4 separate regions of the Homo sapiens genome follow, and all the other regions are linked to region 4. The links come from fine-mapping of genetic effects on gene expression. A gene starts in region 4. Each other region holds a variant in brackets. All regions are shown on one strand. Distances are between the middles of the regions.

Region 1 (4,166 bases), 820 kb after region 4:
GGTTCACATTAGACATGTGATATCACTATTACTATGAATCCTATTTTATTAACCACAACAATTTTCTGTTGGTCTTTCTTTTGCAAAAGAAAAAAATGTTGAAAATAAAATTCCAATACACTATTCTCTGCAACTCCCTTACAGGGAAAATTTATATTCTGATTACTTCAGCCAAACAAACATTTTACTGAATCAAAGGGAAAAGAAAAGCTGCTAATTGTCCTCATTTATGGTTGCTATTCCAATATGAATCAAGAAAAATAATTTTTTTTCCAATTTTAAAAATTGTGGGCCACATGTTCTTTTGCCTTCCATCTGTTTATTTTTATATAAATTTCTACACTAGGAATTTTATACTTTAAAAAACAAGCTCTAAAATTGTTCTACACCCACAAGTAGGCTTCTTGGGTCTATACATATGCATTAGATATATAAAATCCAAAGAGATAAACTAAAACATCACTTTCCACTGAAAAGATTGTTAATTTTCAAAATGGCTTCCTATGACTGATTCTTTTTTAGCCACTGCCCAGTTGAAAATCTTTGAGAGAGAAAAAATTCTTCATTCATTTCTCATTCCTTACAAACATAGAGCGGAACAGTCTGAGCCTCAGAAAATTAGTCCCAGGTGATATTTTGCTAACCTTAATTTTGAAGTAATGTCAAATGAAAAACTGTATCTATTTAGTTAGTTTATACATGTCTAAATTTCTTTGGATTACTGCAGTTTTATTAGTTAAAAATACTGTTATACATGAGTTGAGGTTTTTATGGGGAGGGAAAACATGCATCATGTTATGAAAGACAGACATATTTAAAGTGTTGCCATTTGTTATACATGAATTAGAAAAGGATGACACAGCTATGTTTTGAAGTCATGTCTTCATAAATTATTTTATAAATAATAGTTAAAATAAAACATCAAATTTATTTTTTCAATACTTTTTTTCCCTGTAATCTTTAAATCCAGGCATATATTAAAGAAAACTAGATCCTTAAATTTCTAAGTTATGTATACTTGTGCAACCAAAAGAGATTTATATGGCTTTCTTATTTTTTAGTCCTGCAAGTCTTTTTAATATTTATGTGTTTATTTGCTCAGAAAGTATTTAAGTCCATATTTTTTTGTCGAAACTGGAAATTGTGCTTTGTTAAGTGTAAACAACATAAAAAACCAAAAGTATTTCCTAAGTTTGGAATTAATCTCCCAATCCATGAAAATGGAGAAACTTCTCACATTGGCAAAATGTGTTCCTACCCTGGCTACCAAAGAAGAAGAATGGGCCAACAAGTAGCTTTAGAATTTTTGCCAGCAATTTACATATGAATCAAATGTGATCTTTCTTTAAATTGCACTTAATATAGGAAGTACAGCCATGTTTGATTTCAAGCTGAATTGATATGTGAGCAGTCATTGGCTGTCCATAATTAAAATCTTACAGAAAGCCCACCTATGATGAGCAATTTAATATTTGTGGTCTTAGTTGGTAAACTATGCCAATTCCATGAAAAGCATATTTTCATAGTTAGAGCCAGGCTAACCACATAGAGCTCTTTCTTTCTCTATCCATAATTATATAATTAGATTATTTTTATCTTAAACATACTTTGAAAACATTTTCTTTATGGTACATTATTAAAGAATCATGCCTTCTAAAGGTCTCTTCCTAAGCCAAGAAATCCACATGTTATGTATTATGCAGAAGAGATTTTCATGAGTAGATTTCTGTAAAGCTTTGAACCAAGGTCCAGGAATTATATTACAGTTTGCCAGTGATATTTAAAAAGTGAGAGTAATATAGTTGCAAAGCAAACTTTAGTAAGATAATTGATGGGAAATGATATTGAATGTTAGAAAAAAATGTTGTTATTACTCTTAATGCCAAATCTGTGTTTCTCATGAGTTAGACTTAAACATTTAGGATGAGATAACTGTACCCTCTATATAAGAACTGCATTTACTAAGGAGGGATGAGAGGAGGAGGCAGTCGTAATCTGTAATAAGTCTATTCTGTCTCTATATTTGGTAATGAATGTATATGTCATCTTTCATTTTCAGGTCTCTATTTTTCTCATTTTATTTTAAAAACTATTTATTTATTTATTCATTTTTAGACAGGATCCCACTGTGTCACCCAGGCTGAAGTGCAGTGGCACCATTATAGCTCACTGCAGCCTTGAACTCTTGGGCTCAAGTGATCCTCCTACCTCAGCCTCCCGAGTAGCTGGGACTACAGGTGCGTGCCACCATACCTGTATGTATGTGTGTGTGTGTGTGTGTGTGTATGTGTGTACATATATATTACATTACACATATTATATATTATATATATTACACATATTATATATAATATATATTACACATATATATTATATATTACACATATTATATATATTACACATATATAACAT[ATG/G]TATATTATATAACATATATTACATATATAACATATATTATGCATATTATGTAACATATATGTATTACACATATTATATATAATATATATTATATATATTACACATATTATATATTTTATATATATTACACACATATACCTATATGGTTTTTTGTTTGTTTTGTTTTAGAGACAGGGTCTCGCTATGTTACCCAGGCTGGACACAAACTCCTGGCCTCAAGCAATTGTCCTGCCTCAGCCTCCCAAAGTGGAAAGTGCTGGGACTAAAGGTGTGAGCCACTGTGCCTGGCCCTTGTCTCTATTTTATATATGCCCAGGAGATAGTGCAAATATGTGAATAAATAAACAAACTAGGAATACAGAGTTTGGTAGCTATGATTATAAACTCTGGTAACTTGCTTATTTTTATTGTGTCTCTATTTTCTCTTTCATTACACTAGAAATGTCAATTGCCTACCTGATGGCTGTGAAAAACAGAAAGAAGAAACAAAGACATATCTGTGTAAGGACAGAATGGCAAGGGACATAGAAGCATGTGATATGATAATCCTACTCAACTAAATAGACAATATTAGTGAATGGCAACTTGTAAATGGTTTTGATTATATTTATTTTATTTTCTGTCTATCTAGATGTAAAGGTTGAGCTTGAAAAAAGAAAACTACTCTTGACGCTGAAGAACGCAATCCAACATGAAAGAATGCTTATTTCAAGTTTTACCTGAATCTACCTAGAGCTGAATTTCTTATCTATACTTTACTACAGATATTCTGCTTTGTGCAGATCTACAATGGATCATTAAAGTCAAAGGACAATTACTTATCTTTCTACTCCTCCCAGTACCCAAGACCTGAGAGTGAGATATTAAATTCGTCCTTAGATCTTTCATGCAATGTTACAGCTCTTTGGAACTCCTCATGAAGCTCCTCCTCTCCATGGTGGAATTTTACTCTGAGGAGAGATAGGCTAAAATGTTTCAGTCCCCTATATGATAAGTCCAAAATCACCGTTTCACATATATGCTGACCTGATACATTGAGTCACTGATACGTGTCTTTCCACCTTCAGTATATTTTCTTTGACTAGCTTTATTGCTTCCCTGTGATGCTGAATTTTGAGCATGGATGTGTGTGTCCATAACAAAACCATCCTAGGTAAACTGAATTTGGTTATTTGAATTTCATAATTACTCTTTACTCCAAGTGTTGTGGATTCATGATGCAAATTTACCCATTCCCATTGCAATAACTTAGAGCCAAATATCAATTATTTTAAAACTTGGTTCTCATCACTGAACTAACAGTGTTGAAAAAGACAATTTGCCTATATTTAATAGTTTGCTAGTAAACTTTATTTTGGGTTACATCAAACTTGTAATAAGTAGTGACTGGATTGGGAAGGTGAGGTGTGCTGATTTAAGGATGCCTCTCCATCTATTTTATGTGCTAGAAAATAGGTAGCAAAAAATAAATCTTGCAGTACTCTCTTTTGATTAACTACACATTTTCCATCTTGGAGTAAAAAGTAATTATGAAATTCAACTCTAATTGTATAGTTTTTCTGTGTAAAATAACTGATGAAAATAGAATAATTTAGATGCTTTTTCTTTTATTTTTTATAGTATTGAATAGTGGAGCATAACAAATAGTACCTTCAGTTTGCTTTCTCTGGAAAAAAATGATTTGGTAAGATTTTACATGTCCCACAAATGCTCTTAAACAAAAGATATGTCCCCAAGTGGACAACAGATAA
Region 2 (4,166 bases), 79 kb before region 4:
TGTCTTTGGAGTCAGACCCAAGTTCATATAAATAGATGATTTTGTAATCTTGGACAAGTTGCTTCACGTCTCTGAATCCTACCTTCATCTGTGAAACAGAGATAATCATTATTTCCTTATAGATTTTTTGGTGAGGGTGAAAATATATGACATGTAAAGCCCCTTAGCACAGTACCTGGTACATAGTAGATGCTCAAAAAATTGCTATTGGGCTGGGCACAGTGGCTCACACCCAGCACTTTGGGAGGCTGAGGTGGGCGTATCATTTGAGGTCAGGAGTTCGAGACCAGCCTGGCCAATATGGTGAAACCCCATCTCTACTAAAACTACAAAAATTAGCCAGGCGTAGGGGCACATGCCTGTAGTCGCAGCTACTAGGGAGGCTGAAGCACAAGAATCTCTTGAACCTGGGAGGCAAAGGTTGCAGTGAGCAGAGTTCGCGCCACTGCACTCCAGCCTGGGGGACAGAGAAAGACTTTGTCTCAAAAAAAAAATTGCTAATTGATGCCCTTAATATAATTTTTACTTTCACAGACACAGCAATTGCTTTTTTTTTTTTTTTTTTAAACAGAGTCTCTTTTTGTCACCCAGGCTGGAGTGCAATGGTGCTATCTTGGCTCACTGGAACCTCTGCCTCCTGAGTTCAAGCGATTCTCCTGCCTCAGCCTCCCGAGTAGCTGAGACTACAGGTGCCCGCCACTATGCCCGAGTAATTTTTTTGTATTTTTCAGTAGAGACAGTGTTTCACTATGTTGGCCAGGCTGGTCTCGAACTGCTGATCTCAGATGATCTGTCCACCTCGGCCTCCTAAAGTGCTGGGATTACTGGTGTGAGCCACTGTACCCAGCCTTGTTTTTAATTTTCCACAGAAACTGACACCAAATTCAGTCCCATCCTTCCTTTATTCAACTGATTTTCTCCCTGACATTTCAGACTTCATGTTTACTATTGTAACATTAATGTGTGTTCATCTTATCTTCCCAGCGTATTGAGATTTTCTTTAGATTTATATACTGTTGTGTCACCTGCAGATCAGATACACCTGACCTTCAAGTCTTCATCCTGGTTGCTGGTCATGCTACAGATAGATGGACCAAGGACAGACACCCCCATGACACACCAGGAGACCTTCATCAGGTTTATGCCTGTTCGCAGTTTTCAGCAGTCGTTTAATGAGTTGTGAATAGACGTGCTGCATTGACACCCTACACAAATGCTATTATATTTCCACAAGCACATCCTAAGAGAAAAACCGGAGGATCAATTTGTCTCTGGCATTCCCCATATCTATTTGCCTAGTAACTCTGCTACATAAGAAAATATCTGCTATGATTTAATGAATTTATACTGGCTCTTGATGCTCATTTTCTTTTCTAATTATTTATAAGTCATCTCTCTAATAATTCACAGTATGTCTTTTCCTCCTCCTTCTTCTTTGTATTAGGCAAAATAATAATGGATCCCCAAATATGTCCATATCTTAATGCCAGAGCCTGTGAAATTGTTCTTTCTGTGGCAAAGGGACCTTATGGATGTGATTTTAAGGTTAAGAACTTTGACATAAGGAGAGAAGCCTGAATTATCCAATTTCCCAATCTAATTACATGAGTCTTTTTTTTTTTTTTTTTTTTTTTGAGATGAGAGTCTTGTTCTGTCGCCCAGGCTGGAGTGCAGTGGCTCGATCTCAGCTCACTGCAACCTCCACCTCCCGGGCTTAAGCGAATCTCATGCCTCAGCCTCCCTAGTAGCTGGGATTATAGGGGCCTGCCTGGTTAATTTTTGTAGTTTTTAAAGTAGAGACGGGGTTTTGCTATGTTCGCCAGACTGGTCTTGAGCTCCTGGCCTCAAGTGATCTGCCTGCCTCAGTCCCCCAAAGTGCTGGGATTACAGG[C/T]GTGAGCCACTGTGCCCAGTCTAATCACATGAGTCTTAAAAGCAGAGAACCTTTTTCAGCTGTGGTCAGGGGGGTGATAAAGTTCCCTGAGGGAGGTGCAATGTCGCTGGCTTTAGCAGAAGAGGAGGAGGGCCACAAGCCAAGGAAAGTGGGCAGTCTTTGGAAGTCAGAAAAGGCAGAAAACAAATTCTCCTCTACAACCTCCAGAAAGGAATGTAGCTGTGCCAAAAGTTGATTCAGCCCACTGAGACCTGTGTTGGACTTCTGGTCTTCAGAACTGTAAAATAATAAATCTGTGTTGTTTGAAGCCCCAAAAGTGCTAACTTGTTATAGCAGCCATAGGAAACTAATACCTTCTCATCATCTTTCTCCTGCTCTTTTGTGAATTCATACTTTGAGTTAACATAGATTTTTTTTTCAATTTCACTTTTGGCCAATTGGGGCTTAATTTGGCCATGACATTGGAGACCAGGATAAGTCTGGTGAATAGCAGGAAGTCATCAGTTAATCTCTCAATAACAAATCATTCTTGTCTCTCCATTTATGTAGGTTACAATGACATGCCTGTGTAGCAAAACTTTGTTGGAATTGTAATCACTATGACAACATAACTGTATTTCTTTTTTGACACAAGATCTCACTTGGTTATTCAGACTGAAGTGGCGTGAATATGGCTCACTGCAGCTTCAACCACATGGGCTTAAGTGATCCTCCCACCTCAGCCTTCCAAGTAGCTGGGACTACAGATGCACCATCACACCTGGCTAATTTTTTGCTTGTTTGTAAAGAGGAAGTCTCACTTTTTGCCCAGGCTAGTCTTGAACTCCTGGGCTCAAATAATCCTCCTGCCTCAGTCTCCCAAAGTGCTGGGATTACAACTATATTTCTTTTTTAAAAAAACATCTAAAAATTCATCTAGTCTTTACTCCCTTGCACTTCTGATGTAAATCAACAAAATTTGGTGTGGTTTTACTAAATATATTCTATCCTTACAACCTGTACAATAATGGTATTGTGGAAGCTACACTTGTGAGCCAGAGCCCAACTCTGTCACTTAACAGTTTTGTGACTTTCAATAGTTATTTCTTTCTGCACCTCAGTTTTCATACCTAGAAAAAAAAGGACATATGATGAGATAATCTCTAAAGTCTCTTTCTTCCTCCAAATTGCCGTGTTTTATCAGAGTATAGACCAAAAAAAAAAAATTGTCCCTGTTTCTTTGCCAAAAGGATAAACCAATTAAAATACATTACTTTATTCCTTTGTTCATGCCAGTCCATTTACATGAAATGCACTCTCCTTCTCCTTTATTTTCTTTGACCACTTATTTTTCCAGCTAGTAAAATGCTCCTCTGCTTTCAAGTCCCAAATCAAATGCCACTTCTCATGAAAACTTCCTTGATCACAGCATCAGGAGTTAATCTTGCTCTCTTCTGAAATACTACAGCACTCATTTCCTGTAGGCTTATCACACACTGAGTTATTCTCCTTTGTTGCCATGTCTTGCCACTCCAACCAGACTGCAGCCTTCTGGAGATGGGACCATGTTCCTTGTCTGCCAGTCATAAGTGTTGAGTAAATATCCTGGCCGGGCACAGTGGCTCACGCCTGTAATCCCAGTACTTTGGGAGGCCTAGGTGGGTGGATCACTTGAGGTCAGGAGTTCAAGACCAGCCTGGCCAACACGGTGAAACCCTGTCTCTGCTAAAAATACAAAAATTAGCCAGGCGTGGTGGCACACGCCTGTAATCCCAGCTACTCAGGAGGCTGAGGCAGGAGAATCGCTTGAACCCAGGAAGCGGGGGTTGCAGTGAGCTGTGATTGTGCCACTGCACTCCATCCTGGGTGACAGAGTGAGACTCAGTCTCAAAACAAACAAACAAAAATCCTGCCTTTTCTCCTGTTATAATGGAAGCAGTGTCCTACTTCTCCTATTTAAAGCCCATCCTCTTATAGTCTTCTGATTCCTCCCCTCCTGCCTCTCACAGACTCCATGACATCCATCAGCTCCTATCTCTCCTTTTCCTTTAACTTTTCCAGCTTCAGCCCATCAGCTCAACTGTCTCCCATTTGATTAAAAAAAAAAAAAAAATTCCTCCAAAGGCCCTATATCCAACTCCAGCCCCATCCCCAGATCTCCCACTGTCACATGTCCTGGAGGAGTGGAGGTGTGTACATCCACCCCCTCTACTTCACCACCGCCTCCTTGTGCTTCTGCTCACTGCCGTCTGCCTTCCACCCCATCACTCCACAGAACTTCCCCCAAGGCTACCAA
Region 3 (4,166 bases), 300 kb before region 4:
GATCTGTCTAATCCTTGTAGGATAATTCTGGCCAACAAAGATAGCTTGTTGGCTGCAAGATTTGGTACGTGTCACTTTGCAGGAGGGAGCCCTGTAGTTGCAGGGACAGCCCTGGACAGGCTCTGCTCTGACATGCACTTCTGGGTTGTGCTGAGCTTTCCCAAGCCCCACTGGGAAGGAAAGGGGCTCTTGGGGACAGGTGATATCTATCCCATGCCTATGCCCCAGCTTCTCTTCTAGGAACTCCCTAGTGTCTTTCCTAATTTTCTGAGCTTCAGTAGTCCCAGTAAAGGCAGCTCTTATAACTCGACCAATATTCTGCACACATGATGACAGGGAGCTACCCTTTTCCCAGGAACTTTCTTGTTCTTCATATGATATGCTGGGTTTATTAAACCACTGCAAAGAGGTCTTCATCCATTTTCTGAAAAGGTTTTCAGGAGGAGGCTGTGTTTTCAAGGTTGGGGAAGATTTGCTCCCAAGCACCTCCCCTGATGTCTTGTTATGAACAGGGAGGCTCTTTCTCCTGCGTTGGGATGTCCCCAGCCCTGCATCCCCTCCATCAAGCTCTCCTCCTTTGGGTCTCACAGGACTCACTCTGTTTACAGCTGGTGGGAAATTCGTAACTTGACACTTCTGTAAGACACAGGTAGGGACCCTGGGCTCCTGCTTCTGTGCCACACGGATTCCGCTGTCCTCCAAGTGGACATGCACCACCTGGGAAGTTCCCATGTCCCCACTCGAGATGCCCTGGGAATTAGTCAGTAAGTCCTTGGAACTCAAGTTATCTAAGGCAAAAGACATGTCAGTGAAATGGCTCTGAGGTTGGCTATGCTTCCTCTGGACCAACTTTAACTGGCTCAACATCTGATTTTTAAGGTATGATGATTTAGGATCTTGAGGAACTGATATTCTTGGTGGGAAAATTTCAGTTTCATTGGAAGTGCTTGCTTTCACATTTGTCAGTGAGCAGCTTCCTGACTTGCTGGTTGTCAAGTTGTTCCTAGTTTGTGATTGAAGAGCATTGGTGACAGGAAAGGTCTTTCTACTGCCCTGAAGCCTGTCTACATTATGAAAGGAACTCTTTCTCTTATCCCATGACTCACAGCCAGCTCCAGCTTGCATTATGGGCAGCTCTGCGCTGCATCTACTGGCCAGTACAGTCTGTTTCTGACTGACTTCGTCTACGATGCTGTGTGGCGGGGGCAGAAAAGTCTGTCTGCCATCCTCTGTTGTCCGGACACTTTCTGTAAGATCATTGTCAGTATCAGAGAATTCTCTTCTCAGGGTCCCCTGCTTTTCTTGGTTGACAGGTGAAGTGACAAGGTAAGAATGACCGAGGATGGGGAATGAGCTTGTTGAATCTAATTTTTCGCTTTGAAAATCTGTAGTACCTCTTCTAAGGGATGTGGAGGCCCCGTCTTTGGAATCTGTCTCTATAAGGTCATGGTCAGTATCAGAAAATTGTCTTCTCAGGGTCCCCTGCCCTTCTTGGACGACAGGTGAGGAGACAGGGTGAGGACGATCAAGGATGGGGACTGAGCTTGTTGTTCCCAACTTTTCTCCTTGAAAAGTGCTTCGACTACGGGACTTAGAGACCCCATCTTTGGAATCTCCCTGAGAGATGAAGGTGGCTGAGGAGGGAAGGTCGAAATGGGAAAAGGAAGTGGAAAGGTCCGCTTTCGATTTGAAGATTTCTATGGATTCAAGGACCTTGAGGGGAAGGCCCCACAGCATCCTCATACGGAAAGTTTTAATATGGGCTTCCAACATCTTTTGTTTGTTGGAACTAAGGAAGGAAATTTCCTGGGAAGTATCAACGCAGTGGTCCTCACTCACCAATGTTACCAGATTTCGATGTTTAATTTGGCTGTGGGATTTCTCAGGAAGAGACATTGTCTGCTTGACTGAGTGCCATGAACTATGCACAGTCCCAGGCATTCGACCCTCATTGATTTCCTCAAATTTCTTGCTCAAACGTACTGTCAGGGCATTTTCAAGTTGTTTCTGACCTAGTCTCACCCCTGAGTCATTCCCTGACAGATGCATCATATGAGTTTCTAGGTCTCTCTCAGAGTTAGACCTCAGATCCTTGTCTGAAGA[A/T]GTCTCCGGACCATGCAACAGGTGATCTTTTGGGACAGTCTCCTGGCTGTATCCCTGATAATTCCCCACATTCTCCATGGAAAGCATATTTGAGCTCCTCTCGTGGAAGCTTCTAGGGAAGCTTGATGCGGACTTCTTTAGAACATTGCACCTCTGACCCTCAACCAAAGAGATATTTAACGGTCCATGAATTCTCTCTGACACAGATAGCTCTGAAATTTTGCTCTGAGGACGTAGCAATGACAGAGACTCATGGATTCTGCGGGGCAGGCCCCATCTGCGCTGGATGAGCCTCCTTCGAATGTGTTGCTCTAGTTTCTTCCTTACCTCAGAGCTGAGTGGAAAATCTCCAGGAATGATGGAGATCGGAACATGGACCTTGAAGGACTTTCTGACCAATTCAGGATTGGGAGCTGGAGGACAAAAGTCTTCCTGGGATTTTTGAACCACAGAGGGTAAGCCCCACAAACTTTCCTGCACTTTCTGCAACACGTTCCACTCCAGATGGTTAATTTCAGATGGCAAAAGAGACCGTGCCTCGTTCTGGGGTCTATGAAAACACACTCCACAGATCCTAATCAGGAATAGAGGACTAGGTAGTAGGGCTCGGAATGGAGATTGAGGTTGAGCCAGGGACTTCACCTGAGTGAGATGTGGGGACTGACCTTGGGGCAGGGTTTGAGGCAAGGGTAGTGGTTGGGTACTAGGCAAGGACAGAGGTTGGGGAGGGGGAAGTACTGGGGATTCATGGGATATAGATGTATTTGTAATGCCATTGAAGAATACAAACATGGAGGAATGGCCACGTTGGACAAGAACAGTAGGATGCAGAGACTCGCTGTGCAAAGATGGGAGACCCCAGAAGAGCTGGACATATTTTTGCTCTAAATGGTCTTCAAAGCATTTAGAGTGTGGAGGCTGCTGATGGATGTGCTGCCATTCTAGTTTGCCTTTACTGGCCCAAAAAGGAAAGGATTCTGCCAAGTCATGCTTAACAGCAATTGAGGTTAACATATTCCGTGAGGAATTTAGTTGGTAGTTTGGCCTAAGTTGTTTTGGGAATGATCCTGGTTTCTTTCCATTTTCTTTCCACATCAGGAAATCACCCCTTTTTTTGACTTGTCTCTCCAGGAGTGCCAGAATGTCATGGCTGAGAAATGAGATGTTAACAGGCTCTATGAGGTTGGCCACAGAGTGCCCCCCTAAAAAGGCCTCAGAAGAATGAAGGGTAAGAAGCTCCTCCATGAAATCAGATGGCACAAAATTAGAGGAAAAAGAGTCCTTGGCATGAGGCTGCCACCAGGTGAATTCTGAAGATGCAAGGTGTGAATGGTCAATGCCTTTGATTGTTGGGGCAGAGGTGGATGACCCACCAGAGCCACCTAGAGATAACATTTCCGGAAAAGTCTTCAAGATGGTGAGACTTGATTTAGACTGAGTCACAGTGCAATCTTCCGGTGGTAAAGCAGATGGGATTGGTGGTCCGTGATGACGAGCACAAGAATCAATGGGATTCATGGCCTGCGAAATATCTTGGCATAGGGTGGAGCCAAATGAAAAGATGGTGTTCAGAGACAAACTGGCTTCAGGTTGGAGGCTGGACTCCACTCTCTCAATGTGATGTGGTGGGAGAAGGGGAAAGGGAAGCTGTTGGGGTGGGGAATGGTCTATGGGGAACTTGGAATCCAAGGGAGAAACAGGCTGTGGTGGCAGAGGGTCCCTCAGTGGTGAGGGTGAAAATAAGTCAGCTAAGGTGGTGATCAGGTCAGGTGAGAGAATTAAGGGGGGTGGTGGAGAGGCCTTAGGCCGAGGGGACAGTATTAGGTCTTCTGGAGGGGTTGCTGAGGGGGTGGAAGCCAGAGTGAACGATGACTCAGTCGCAGAAGCCGAAGAAGCCAAAGGGGACACAGAGGGAGCAGCATCTTTCAGGGACTCCCAAGACAGCAGTTGCTGGATATCAGCAGTTGCTCTCTTACACACCCGACAGACGGGGTCTGGGCATAACAGTCGACGAAAGTGGTTGGTATCATGATGCTGGCCCCGAGGACTGCAGGAAACAGGAG
Region 4 (4,166 bases):
TTTTTGTTCTCCATGTTAGCAAAATGAATAATACAGCCGCCTTCCCAACTGTACTTAATGAGAACACCACAAAGCTACAATGCCCAACTTGTTTAAGAATTTACTATGGCTTCGTACAGACTGGTTAAAATCGCTTTTTTATTTTTTCATTTATAATTGATATTTGGGAGTGATGCAATTATAGACAAATCAATATCATACATATTTAAAAACAACTCCAACAGTGAAATGTATTATCTAAAATGACTTCTAAAACTATTTCAAGAAAAAGAACTCTGTAAAAGCACATCTTTAAATAAAATGTATGTCTGTTTAAATAAGCTCCTTCCCGTAAGTCTCTTGAAGGTAAAATAATAAAATAATAACGTGGGGGTTATTAATACCAAAAACTTAACTAGTTTCCAACATAAGATAAATACTTGTCCAAGATGTGCCCTTATGGAAGAAGTTACCACCGTTTGGCTAAACCAGCATTATTCATTCACTGCTCATGTGGAAATGTTCCTCAAACAAAAGCATAAATGCGGCAATACTGACGGTTTTCTGCTGTGTATTTAGAGACATACACAAAAACCAAAGACTCTCAGCATTAATTATACAGCATGTCTTGATTATTACAATCTCAAAATCCCTTTTAACTCAAGTTCCACTTCATAAGAACCTTAGCCACGTCATTTACCTAACTCTTCCCATTTAGCTCTTCACACAGCTCAGCTCAGGAGTACCACCCAGACTGTGGGGGTGGGGTGTGCGGGACAGGTTTTTCAGGTCTCAGTGCTGGTTTATTACATTGTCTCTCTTTGTTCCCAGGAATTGGAAACAGACTCGTAGTCTTGTAGCTGAGAAGTTCCTAAAAACCTCAGCCGCTCCCCACCTCTCCCAACACAGCGAAGTCAGGACTTTTAAGACGAAGACCTGGGATTTCGCGCCCCGGGCAAAACGTCTCATCTGCGGACACGCGTGCCTTGTTCTGGCAGCACCCTGGGAATCCTTCCCGCCAAACGGGACAGGACGATCTTTTTGAAAAGTGGCTTGAAATCCTGCAATAAAAATCAAATCCTACCACTTTGGGTGCAAAGGGGGTGGGTGGGGTGGGAGGACATCACAGTCGTCTTTGCTGGTGTACCTACGCCAACCGTGGCGTTGCTCATTTACGCATTTCCAACTAAGTGCACAGTCCACTCCCTCTCGTACATCCGTAAAAAGGCAGCTCAAGGAAAAACAAACCTCAGATAAATTTTTGAATGTGGCCTCACTTTTAGAGTAGCATCAAACAAGGGGTCCAGCACTGAAAAACACATTTGCTCGAATTACCAAAAGCCCCCCTCCGCCTCCAATAAGAAACTCCGCAGCTAGTCTTTGAGTTACTTTCACTTAGATCTGAGGATTTTCATTAAAGGGAAAAGTGAGCAAGTGGCAGGATTTTTGCTAACTCGAGCCCTCAGCTTCCCCGGCTGCACGCTCGCCAGTCCCTCCCGCTAGCGCGCGCCCGCGCGCTCTCTAGCCAGCCCCACGTTACTTTGATTGACAGCCCAGCCCCGCCGCTCTCCTTCCCACCGACCTTCCCATCATCAGTGCCAATCTCCGCGAATCGCCGCTTCCCATTGGCTGGTTTTGGCGTCCCGCGGCTCCTCCAGGAACAGTTCCTCACCAAGCCCGGGAGGACGCGGCTGGCGGAGGAGGGGCCGGGATGGGAAGGGAGACCGAGGAGACGGCGGAGATGGAAGCGAGAGGAGGGGGGGAGGGAGAACGCCCCGTCCGGCGCTGCGCTGCCATACGCTCCGGGGAGGAGCGCGTCAGCGCCCCACGTTGGTTGCAGCGCACGCGATTGGCTGATGCGGGCCTTCTGCCCCCCCCCCACCCCCCAACCTCCCGGGCTCACGTCCCCCGCCGGCTCCGCGCTCGCGCCCCCCGCCCGAACGGGGCTGGGCGGGGCCGGCGCTGGTTAGCTCCGGAGTGTGAAACCGCGTGTTAATGTAAGCGGCGCGAGAGGCGCGGGCGGCGGCGGCGGTGGGAGCGGCGGCTGCAGAAGCAGCAGCAGCAGAAACAGCGGCGGGTACTCTGTGCCCCGCGTCCCGGAGGCAGCCGACTGCGCCACCCCACCCTCGCACGGCCGGGCGGGACCCGCGCCACCAGCCCGGACCTCCGTCGTCCCGCGGCGACCAAAACCCCCGCTGGCCCCACCGCTGTGACTACTCTGGACTCGCCCGCAGAGTTTGCCCGCCGGGGAGGGTGGCCGATTGGCGGAGCGCACTCCTGCTGTTTTCCCCACCATCTCGTGGATGTCGTCCCTCGGGTGGTGAGAGAACTTTGCAGTGGGCTGGAGCGCCCTTTGCGGAGAAGCACACGAAGGTGAAGGAAGGAAAGAAAGAAGACCGAGGAAGAAGGAGCTCGGAAGAAGGGTCCGGAGCGGCCGGTCCGGCCGTGCAGGGCGAGTGCGCCCGAGGCGCGGCGCCCTGATGCTCCCCGGGCTCGAGGAGCATTGGGCACTTGCGGGACTGCTCTCGGTGGAGTAGCCCCGTCGGGCCCGGAGGGTTTGTGCAACCGCGGAGAACACCGAGTGCTGGTCGCACGGGGCGTGCCGAGCCGCCTCCCGGCGCGCCCTCCGCACTTTCCCCGCCTCGTCATCCGTCGCTCCCCGGCCAGGAGCCTCCGCTGCGTCTTCAACCTCGCTCCCCTTTGCGTCCCGGGAGCCTGCGAGCACCCGGCCGAAGGCGCAGCCGAATCTTGCGGGAGTCGCCCCGAAAGCGTCGGGTTTGTGTGGGGTTAGCGGGGGCCGCCGCGCCACCTGCACCTCGCCCGCCGCCGCCTCGGGGAAAGCCCGAAGAGGAGGCGGACCAGGAGAAGAGCAAAGAAAAGCAGTCCGTCTGGATTTGTTTGCCCAGGACTGGCGCCGCGCACGCGGATCGCCGAGGGGAGTGCGGTCGGAGTCACCGCGCCCCCGCCTCCCCGCCCGGGCAGCTGAGGCCGGGGGTTGGAGCGCTGCCCCCGCGCACAGTCCCCGAGCGCCCGACGTCTCCGCGCAGGTTCTTGAAGCAGCTGGGCCTGGGGCGCCCACTAATGTGGCCCTGAGGGCCGGAGCCCGCACCGACGGGAGCGGGAGCCGGAGCAGCTGCGGGCGCCGAGTGGCCGGTGCGCCCGGCGGAGCGCGCGTGCGTGGCCAGCGCGCTCCCCGCTTCTGCTTGGCTTTCCGGCTTAATTTTCCTCGGCGGGATTAAAGTTGGAAATTGACCGGAGAATTGAGTTGCCGGGGAACAGAGCCCCGGCCGCCGCCAGAGCGATGTTCCCGCAGAGCCGGCACCCGGTGAGGCGCGGCTGGGTGGTGGTGGGGGGCCAGGATCGTTGGGGAGGCGCTTCTCCCGGGCGGTAGGGAGACTGGTGGCTTCTGAGGCCCGGCGGACCTTCTCGCCCTCAGCGGTGTAAGGCTGGGGAGGTCTGGGGCCCTCTCTTCCTGGGGTGGGGAGTGGGCCGAAACTCTTAATTTTCTCCCTCCCTTTGGGCTCCTTCCTACTTGACGTCTATACCGAGCGGACAGGGGCGCTGGGGAAGGCTGGGGTTTCTCTCCTGCAGCCATATCCCCTCTACCTTCCCCGAGTGGGGGCAGGGCGCCCCCCCCTTTGTTTCTCCTCTCGCCTATTTACATGTCAATGCGGCCCCGGTTCCGGTGCGTCTGGAGGTGGCCCCGGCGACTCTGGGAATGGGGAGCGTAAAGGAGTTGTTTTTCTCCTCTGGTCCCCGGGGTCATTATCGCCGCCGTGGGGGAAGGGGCGGCGACACCGACAATCTGGCCTGGTCTTCCCTGGCCGCCGGGGAGCCCCCTTCCCTTTGGCCTGGTGACCCGGGCGCACTTAGCGCAATCCGCCCTGGAGACTGGGAAGAGCTTCCGAGCCTCTTTAGAAGCCGGGGCCCGGGGAGGGTCCGCTTTCCCCCTCCCCATAGTGAAGGGCAAACTCGAGTTTGGGGCCTCGTTTTCAGCCACTTCTAACTTTATGTTTATGTCCCACCCGTTCTTGCCTTCTCTGACTTACTGCTTTATTCATCCGCCCGCATTCCCGTCCCTCGGTCCCCCTCGCTGGTCGCCCCCAGACGCCGCACCAGGCTGCAGGCCAGCCCTTCAAGTTCACTATCCCGGAGTCCCTGGACCGGATTAAAGAGGAATTCCAGTT

Direction of the effects. Positions count from the first base shown, and alleles are read on the strand shown. Sizes are in standard deviations (SD) of each study's normalised expression. Not every link is listed here.
For the expression in fibroblasts of the gene that starts at base 1,974 in region 4, allele ATG in region 1 goes with a lower level than allele G (small effect, 0.39 SD a copy in GENCORD).

Evidence for each region. PIP is the estimated chance that this variant, and not a neighbour inherited with it, causes the effect.
Region 1: its variant is the best candidate, but not a certain one, in a credible set for the expression of TLE1 in fibroblasts (GENCORD, PIP 0.51).
Region 2: its variant is the best candidate, but not a certain one, in a credible set for the expression of TLE1 in aorta (GTEx, PIP 0.83).
Region 3: its variant is the best candidate, but not a certain one, in a credible set for the expression of TLE1 in whole blood (INTERVAL, PIP 0.50).

What each region holds. Positions count from the first base shown.
Region 1 is chr9:80,869,244-80,873,409 of GRCh38, reverse strand. No RefSeq gene overlaps it. Among named protein-coding and RNA genes, the nearest start is that of TLE1, 820 kb to the left of the region's middle. The variant ATG/G (reference allele first, on the strand shown) is at 2,413.
Region 2 is chr9:81,766,163-81,770,328 of GRCh38, reverse strand. The region is part of intron 3 of TLE1-DT (TLE1 divergent transcript); the gene reads right to left. Among named protein-coding and RNA genes, the nearest start is that of TLE1-DT, 79 kb to the right of the region's middle. The variant C/T (reference allele first, on the strand shown) is at 1,892.
Region 3 is chr9:81,990,781-81,994,946 of GRCh38, reverse strand. It overlaps SPATA31D1 (SPATA31 subfamily D member 1), which reads right to left. Exons shown (of 4, transcript NM_001001670.3): 4 at 1-4,166. All of the region lies in intron 1 of LOC105376107 (a long non-coding RNA gene), which reads right to left. Among named protein-coding and RNA genes, the nearest start is that of SPATA31D1, 4.1 kb to the right of the region's middle. The variant A/T (reference allele first, on the strand shown) is at 2,104.
Region 4 is chr9:81,687,355-81,691,520 of GRCh38, reverse strand. TLE1 (TLE family member 1, transcriptional corepressor) reads left to right here and starts at 1,974. Exons shown (of 20, transcript NM_005077.5): 1 at 1,974-3,304; 2 at 4,087-4,166. The coding sequence starts at 3,281. It overlaps TLE1-DT (TLE1 divergent transcript), which reads right to left and starts at 1,808. Exons shown (of 4, transcript NR_109772.1): 1 at 1,562-1,808. RefSeq lists silencers at 1,427-1,576, 1,727-2,076 and an enhancer at 1,949-2,663.